2 separate regions of the Homo sapiens genome follow, and region 2 is linked to region 1. Evidence: fine-mapped expression QTL. A gene starts in region 1. The other region holds a variant in brackets. All regions are shown on one strand. Distances are from middle to middle.

Evidence for each region. PIP is the estimated chance that this variant, and not a neighbour inherited with it, causes the effect. A credible set is the group of variants that fine-mapping cannot tell apart.
Region 2: its variant is the best candidate, but not a certain one, in a credible set for the expression of CASP8AP2 in whole blood (INTERVAL, PIP 0.53).

What each region holds. Positions count from the first base shown.
Region 1 is chr6:89,827,229-89,831,620 of GRCh38, forward strand. CASP8AP2 (caspase 8 associated protein 2) reads left to right here and starts at 2,652. Exons shown (of 10, transcript NM_012115.4): 1 at 2,652-2,878. RefSeq lists a silencer at 2,002-2,051 and an enhancer at 2,152-2,341.
Region 2 is chr6:89,889,277-89,893,668 of GRCh38, forward strand. No RefSeq gene overlaps it. Among named protein-coding and RNA genes, the nearest start is that of GJA10, 3.0 kb to the right of the region's middle. The variant CTTTTTT/C (reference allele first, on the strand shown) is at 2,706.

The DNA.
Region 1 (4,392 bases):
TACAAACTCAAAAAGTAATTAATTAATTTAGTTTTTATTTTTCTCACCCTGTCTTATGGTGCTGAAAACTCAACAGTTTAATTGGGGCCAGGCACAGTGGCTCACATCTGTAATTCCAGTACCTTGGGAGGCCCAGGCATGAGGATTTCTTGAGCCCAGGGGTTCAAGGTTACAGTGAACTACGATTGTGCTACTGCACTCCAGCCTGGGTGACAGAGGCAGACTGTGTATCTAACACCCTCCCACACCCAACTTATTTGGGTGAATTATATAGTATGTAAATTATATCCCAGTAAAGCTCTTATTAAAAAAATTAAAGCCGGCCAGACACAGTGGCTCACGCCTGTAATCCCAGCACTTTGGGAGGCCGAGGCGGGCGGAATACCTGAGGTCAGGAGTTTGAGACCAGCCTGGCCAACACGGTGAAACCCCATCTCTACTAAAAATACAAAAAACATAGCCAGGCCTGGTGGCAGGTGCCTGTAATCCCAGCTACTTGGGAGGCTGAGGCAGGAGAATCACTTGAACCTGGGAGGTGGAGGTTGCAGTGAGCCGAGACCGCCCCATTGCACTCCAGCCTGGGCAACAAGAACAAAACTCCAACTCAAAAAAAAAAAAAAGTTAATTAATTAATTAATTAAAAAAAAGCCATGCATATGTGCAAATAAAAATACATAACTTAGGTGGAGTGGCTCATACCTGTAATACCAGCACTTTGGAAGGCAGAGGTCGGAGGATTGCTTGAGGTCAAGAGTTGGAGACGAGCCTGGGCAACAACATGGCGAGACCCTGTCTATATTAAAAAAAAAAAAAAAAAATGAAAGAAAGAAAGGCGAGTGTGGTGTTGTGTGCCTGTGGTCCCAGCTACCTGGGAGGCTGAGGTAGGAGCATTGCTTGAGCCTAGGAGTTTGAGGATGCAGTAAGCTATGATCACACCATTGCACTCCAGCTAGGACAACAGACTGAGACCTTGTCTCTAAAAAAATAATAAAAATAAAGCCAGGCGCGGTGGCTCACGCCTGTAATCCCAGCACTTTGGAAAGCCGAGGCGGGCAGATCACCTGAGGTCAGGAGTTTGAGACCAGCCTGCCCGACATGGCGAAACCCCATCTCTACTAAAAATGCAAAAAACTAGCCAGGCAGGCCCCTGTAATCCCAGCTATTTGGGAGGCTGAGGCAGGAAAATCGCATGAACCCCGGAGGCGGAGGTTGCAGTGAGCTGAGATCACACCACTGCACTCCAGCCTGGGTGACAAGAGTGAAACTCCGTCTCAAAAAAAAAAAAAAAAGAATAAAAATAAAAATAAATTGGTTGATATGGCAGTTAAGACTAAATGGGGTCAGGTGCAGTGACTCACACCTGTAATCCCAGCACTTTGGGAGACTGAGGTGGGAGGATTGTTTGAGCCCAGAAGTTCGTGACCAGCCTGGGCAACATAGCAAGACCCCATCTCTACAAAAATTTTAAAAAATTAGCCAGGGGTGGCCGGGCGTGGGTGGCTCACGCCTTTAATCCCAGCACTTTGGGAGGCCAAGCTGGGCAGATCACCTGAGGACAGGAGTTCAAGACCAGCCTGGTCAACATGGCGAAACCCTGTCTCTACTAAAAATACAAAAATTAGGTTGGCGTGGTAACACATGCCTGCAATCCCAGCTACTCGGGAGACTGAGGCAGGAGAATCACTTGAACCCCGGAGGCGGAGGTTGTAGTGGGTCGAGATCGCGCCATTGCACTCCAGCCTGGGCAACAAGAGTGAAACTCCATCTCAGAAACAAAACGAAACAAAACAGCCAGGGGTGGTGGTCGCTCGCGTCTATGGTCCCAGCTACTCTGGAGGCAGAGGTGGGAGGATCTCTCGAGCCTTGGAGGTGGAGGTTGCAGGGAGCCGAAATCGCTCCACTGCGCTCCAGCCTGAGCGACAAAGCGATACCCTGTCTGAAAGCAAAAAGAAAAAAAAAAGCTAAGTGGACAAACGAGGAAATGGGTAGGGATGAATATAGGCAGACTATAAGTAGCCGAGGAAGGTGGCCTTATTTTCGCACCTATCAATGCTCAGGCTGAGCTCCTGAGGCTAGACCTACCGGCACCCCCCATTCCTACAGGTTCTATAAGGCAAGTCAGGTATTCCACCCTGTAAAAAGCTCTTCTCTCTCCTGCCCCGCTAGACTAGTATCCCCTCCTTAAGGCTCCCAACATCCGAAGCTAAGTTGTTTGTCTGCCTATCATCCAGGAACGCGTCTGAGGGCAGGGAACAAATTTATTCATCGTAATCGAGCCCAGCACTTTGTCTCGCACGCAGCTGACAGCAGAATTTTAAGATAAAGTATTAAATAAATGACAGACCTCTCAAGGCTTCCTGTCTTTCACTAAAAAGCTTCTCTCAGGCCACGCCCCTACCTCCACTCAGGTCAGCCCCTTCCTATTGAAGCCCCGCCCCATCGCCTTCCCCGCCACCTTACACCCCGCCCCTCTCTCTTAAAGCCCTAGGAAGATTACTGGAGTTTGGCGCCAACCGTGTTTTTTTTTTTCCCTTCCAAAGGCGGGAACTAGTTGTGGGCGCTGCGACGTGCTTTGCGTCTGATATGATTGGCCGTAGGCACTCAGTCCCGCCTCCATACCCTGATAGCGCTCTGGTATTGGTGGAGATGCCAGGGAGACCTCGGTGGGCAGAAAGGAACCGGGTTGTCTTGGGCCGGGCAGGGCGGGTAAGTTGTCGTAGGGGCCCGGTCCGTGAGGGACTGCTAAGGAAGAGGCTGCATGGCGCGGTAGTCCCCCGAGTGGAGGTCGGCTGCCCCTGGGAAACCAGAGAGTCGGAGGGAGTCCATCTGGAGCGGCCAAGTAGGTCGGGGAAGGGCCGCGCCTGACGTCTGGCCGCAGGTAGCCACGTTCCCTCCGCCCCCGGTGCAGCTTCAGGGCTTGCACCCTGCGTCCCTCTGTGGTCCTTCGAGAGGGTCTGGGCGGGGACTATGGGTGGGCGCGCCCAGGAATTGTCCCTTCGGCCTCTCGTCCTGCCCCTCCCCCCCACCATCCAGTCTCTCCTTGGAATATACTCTTAAAATCTTTCGGATGGAGTTCTTTGGAGAAATGGGTTTCCTGGAGTGTCAGGTGATCATTGATGTTGATTGTTTCTGAAATGTTTATTTAGGCATCAAACCAACATGCCTAAATAAGTTTTTCATTTCTACAGCGCCTAGATTCATTCCTAGCACATAGTAGGCCCTAACTCAGATGTGAATGTAGGATTCGTAGGAGCTGAGCATTTGTGCTTCAGGCATCAAGTTGTCTTTGACTCTTCGACTCTTCCTTGGTCTTTTTCCATTCTCCACACCTCCAGCAGCAAACCTTTCGCCTCTCCTCAAGGCCTTTCCCCCCCATCTCCCTCAGCGCCTCTTTGACTGGAGGGGGACAGAGGCTTTCATGGCAGGGATTCTCCCATCTCCCTTCCTATCCCCGCTATGCCCTCCAATTATCTTTTCCTGGCGTTCCGTTTTACAAGAGATGGCCTTCTTTCCAAAAACATTTATATTGTATTGAATATTCTTGATTTTGGCCATCTTGCTTTACAGACAGACCTGGGGTCTAATTTCAGCTCTGCCACTTACCAGGTGGTTGCCTTGTGCAAATTTCTTGATCGTCTGTGTTTTCCTCATCTGTAAAATGGGGAAAAGAATAATATGGACCTCATAGAACTCTGGGGAGGATTTAAACTAAGTGAATAATGTATTTAGATCATTTAGGTTAGTGCCTGGAACATAGTAAATGTGCCGTATATGATAGCTTTTGTTAGTATTTGCCCCTTACCTCTTCTTCTGGGGTCTTGCTGTATTAGCCTTTCCCATGAGTGTAAAAATACACTGTCTTCTCTGGCTTTTTCCTGTTTTTCTCTACAAATGCTTGTGTTTTTCTCTAAATTTTATTTTTTGTCTTTTAGCGTCTACATTAAGGACACATTCTCAGTTTCGTAATGATTTTTCTTTTTCTTTTTTCCTTTTTTTTTGAGACTATAGCCCAGGCTGGAGTGCAATGGCAAGATCTCGGCTTACTACAGGTTTGACCTCCTGTGCTCAAGCAATCCTCCCACCTCAGCCTTCCAAGTAGCTGGAACTACAGGTGTGCACCAGCATGCCTGGCTAATTTTTGTATTTTGTAGAGACTGGGTTTTGCCATGTTTCCCAGGCTGGTCTCGAACTCCTAGGCTCAAGTGATCAGACTGCCCTCAGCCTCCCAAAGTACTGGGATTACAAGTGTGAGCCACCCCGCCCAGCCACATTCTCTCAATTTTAAAAAGAAAACTTCCTTCAGACTGCCTATAACGAAAGGCTATGTGATCCTTCTCCTGTCTACTTTGCTTTCACATCTGAATCCATTGGAATTGTCCCAGAAAAGATTAT
Region 2 (4,392 bases), 62 kb after region 1:
ACTGTGCTCATTCTGGATTAGGGCCCCACAGCCACCTGATCAGAGCCTTTATATCTGCAACCAGCAGCAATTTTTCCACTAATGAGCCACACACGGTGCAACTTTGAGGTTCTGCGAACCCAATCGTGATTTTTTTGTTCACTCATAAGGTAAGTAGTAAATATGTGGACTCTCTTGTTTATGAGAAATATATAGAAAATCCTTGTGGGTATAGAAAACAAGATCTGAAATAATATGCAGAAAAGGGCCATCAGCATTTTACATAGGATATGCTAAATTTGTATTTGATAATAAAAGAAAATTCAGTAATATTTCTAAGACCCACATTCATTTAATGGTAAAAAGTAGTTATTTTTAGAAAACGGACTAGTTGTCTAAAGGACAAAATGTCTTGTATTCTAGTATGTAAGATTGTATTTTTGTTTTTCGTATAGGCTAAGCTCGGTTTTCCTTTCCTTGCTATTTAAAAATAATAATTTCCACATTTTAAAGAGATAGTGGCAAAAAGAAGTATTATATAGTTTAGTACTGCCAAATAGGAATAAGATTGACATAAGTTAGCTTTCCCACCTCAGGGTTTTTATATAAAATAGAAGCTATAGATTTTTTTTAAGTGCTAAAGGAATCCTTTATTTTTTTTCCGGATCTCTACCTGCAGAGGAAATCCCTTTTTAAAATAAAGAATAATGACCAGAAAGTTTTAAGAGAATAATTATGGGAAAAGACCAAAACTTTAAGACAGGATAGAACTTAGTAAATTATTGCTTTTGGTTAATGAGGTCTGAGTCCTCATTTTAATATCTAATTTTTATTTGCAAGTAATATAAATGACTGCATTCTTAATTTTTGAATCTCAAACAATTCACAAGTATATAGAGTAAATTATAAAAGTCTCATTAATACCTCTTCCAAATTCTGAGAGGTATCTACCACTTTTTCAATTTCATTAAAAAATTATTTATATTTATATACGTACATACAGGTAAAAATGTACATAAACATACACTTTTGATAAAAATCACTTATGCTTTCTTAGAAGTCTTTTTTCCTTTCCTTTCTCTTTTTAGCCTCTCTTTTTTCCACCTTAACTTCCCGTCCACTCTCATCACCTTCAACAGCTCAGGTAACCTATATTAAATTCCTGGTGTGTATCCTTCTGCATTTTTTTCTCCATGCTCAATTAAATCACATACATATATATCTCATATACACATGCATACATATACATGTACATTTATAGAATTTTGTTTTACTGAGTGATTTACAATTCCACACTGAATCTTTGGATTAATTTGGGAAGAATTGACATCTTTACCTATATTGCAATTTTCAATCCCTGAGCATGGTATATCACCATTAAATTAAATTAATTTATATAGTGGTGTGTTTGTGTGTGTGTGTGTGTGTGTGTGTGTGTATTTGGCATTGTCAACTATTCCCCTTCTTGAAACTCTGGCTTTGGGCTTTGGTTTCAGAGACAGCACCCTCATGATTTTCCTCCTCTTTCTCCTTGGCCATTTCTCATATTTATTTGTAGATTCTTTTGTGGGGAAAAGAAAGAGATCAGATTGTTACTGTGTCTGTGTAGAAAGAAATAGACATAAGAGACTCCATTTTGTTCTGTACTAAGAAAAATTCTTCTGCCTTGAGATGCTGTTAATCTGTAACCCTACCCCCAACCCTGTGCTCCCTAAAACATGTGCAGTGTCAACTCAGAGTTAAATGGATTAAGGGCTGTGCAGGGTGTGCTTTGTTAAACAAATGCTTGAAGGCAGCATGCTTGTTAAGAGTCATCACCACTCCCTAATCTTAAGTACCCAGAGACACAAAACACTTCGGAAGGCCTCAAGGACCTCTGCCGAGGAAAGCCAGGTATTGTCCAAGGTTTCTCCCCATGTGATAGTCTGAAATATGGCCTCGTGGGAAGGGAAAGACCTGACCGTCCCCCAGCCCGACACCTGTAAAGGGTCTGTGCTGAGGAGGATTAGTAAAAGAGGAAGGAACGCCTCTTTGCAGTTGAGATAAGAGGAAGGCTTCTGTCTCCTGCTCGTCCCTGGGCAATGGAATGTGTCGGTGTAAAGCCGATTGTATCTACTGAGATAGGGGAAAACCGCCTTAGGGCTGGAGGTGGGACATGCTGGCAGCAATACTGCTCTTTAAGGCATTAAGATGTTTATGTATATGCACATCAAAAGCACAGCACTTTTTTCTTTACCTTGTTTATGATGCAGAGACATTTGTTCACGTGTTTACCTTCTGACCTCCTCTCCACTATTAACCTATTATCCTGCCATGCCCGATAATGATCAATAAATACTAAGGGAACTCAGAGGCCGGTGCTGGCGTGGATCCTCCGTATGCTGAATGCCGGTCCCCTGGGCCCCTTTTTCTTTCTCTATACTTTGTCTCTGTGTCTCTTTCTTTTCCAAGTCTCTCCTTCCACCTAACGAGAAACACCCACAGGTGTGGAGGGGCAACCCACCCCTTCACTCTTTCTTCCTCTATATTAGTCTCAGGGTTCTGTCATTGTCTCACTTTTTCTTTTTGTCTCTGAGGGATCTTCTCTACTTATTCAATGATAATTCATAAATGTTTATCTCCTGTTTGTACCATTTTTGTTGTCGTTGTTCTCTAGACCCAGATACCTTCTGGACAGCTCCACCTTTGCCATTCAGTTTTGCTGGTAGAATCTGTATTTTCTTTTT[CTTTTTT/C]TTTTTTTTTTGAGGAAGGGTCTCACTCTGTCACCCAGGCTGGAGTGCAGTAGTGTCATTATGGCTCCCCGCAGCCTCAAATTCCTGGGCTCAAGTGATCCTCCCACATCAGCCTCCCTAGTAGCTAGGACTATAGGCACTCACCATCATGCCTGGCTAACTTTTTACATTTATTTTTTGTAGAGACAGGGGCCTCACTATATTTCCCAGCCTGGTCTGCAACTCCTGGGCTCAAGCAGTCCTCCTGCCTCCACCTCCCAAAATTCTGGGATTACAGGAGTGAGCCACCATGCCCAGCTAGAATCTGGATTTTTTTCTAATTATAATTTCTGGCACTAATGTGCTTAAAAAGCCTTCTACTTCAAGATTACAAAACATATTCTTTTATAATTTATTTTAATACTTTTATGGTTTACTTTTTTACAATTAATATTATGTTCCATCTGGAATCAATTGTTGTGTTTGGAGATAAGTTGGAAAAAAATCTAAGAATTCCAGGTTTTTCTCTCTTTTTCTTTTGGTTGATATTCATTTTTGTATTATCAGTATTGATTCATTTTATAGGTTAGTGGGAGTCCTTAGTGATCAAGTACTGTGAGGTCTGGGACCAAATATATTTTGTTATTGAATTCCTGGCATCTAGCCCAATGCCTAAGCGATAGCAAGGTTTGATTTATTTTATTTTATTTTATTTATTTTTTTGAGGCAGAGTCTTGCTCTATTGCCCAGGCTGGAGTACAGTGGCATGACCTTGGCTCAGTGCAACCTCCGCCTCCCAGGTTCAAGCGATTCTCCTGCTTCAGCCTCCTGAGTAGCTGGGATTATAGGCGCACAGCACCACACCTGGCTAATTTTGGTATTTTTAGTATAGACGGGGTTTCACTATGTTGGCCAGGCTGTGTTCAATCTCCTGACCTCATCATCCGCCCGCCTCAGCCTCCCAAAGTGTTGGGATTACAGGCATGAGCCACTGCGCCCAGCCAATAGCAAGATGTTAGCAAATATTACTGAATGAATGAATTATGGAAGGAGAGAATTGTTTCATTATCTTTTTTTTTTTGAAACAGAGTTTCACTCTTTTGCCCAGGCTGGAGTGAAGTGGCGTGATCTCAGCTCACTGCAATCTCTGCCCCCTGGGTTCAGGTGATTCTCCTGCCTCAGCCTCCTGAGTAGCTGGGATTACAGGCGCGTGCCACCACACCGGCTAGTTTTCCTATTTTTAGTAGAGACGGGATTTCACCATGTTGGCCAGGCTGATCTCGACCTCCTGACCTCAGGTGATCCACCCACCTCAGCCTCCCAAAGTGCTAGGATTACAGGCATGAGCCACCACGTCCAGCCTCATTATCTATTTTAACTTAATAATACTTTCCTATTTTTCCTCTGTATCTTTCTTATCTGGAAGTCTTCCATATCTTAGAAAGCTTTAACCTACTAAGTATTTTAACCTTATTGAACCTTGAAAAACATTAGTTTTTCAGGATAAACCAAGTAACCTGTTCATGTCAGCTATACCTGTATTGTTTCCCAGATCCTAAGCTTGCTAGAGAAGCAGTTTATATTCACTTTTCTTCTAAGTTAGCAAAAATTCCATGAAAACATGATGTTCCAGATGTGGCTTAATGGATGTAATTATGTGTTATTGCTGGTATTGTTTCTGTGTCTGCCTAATCTTTACTGC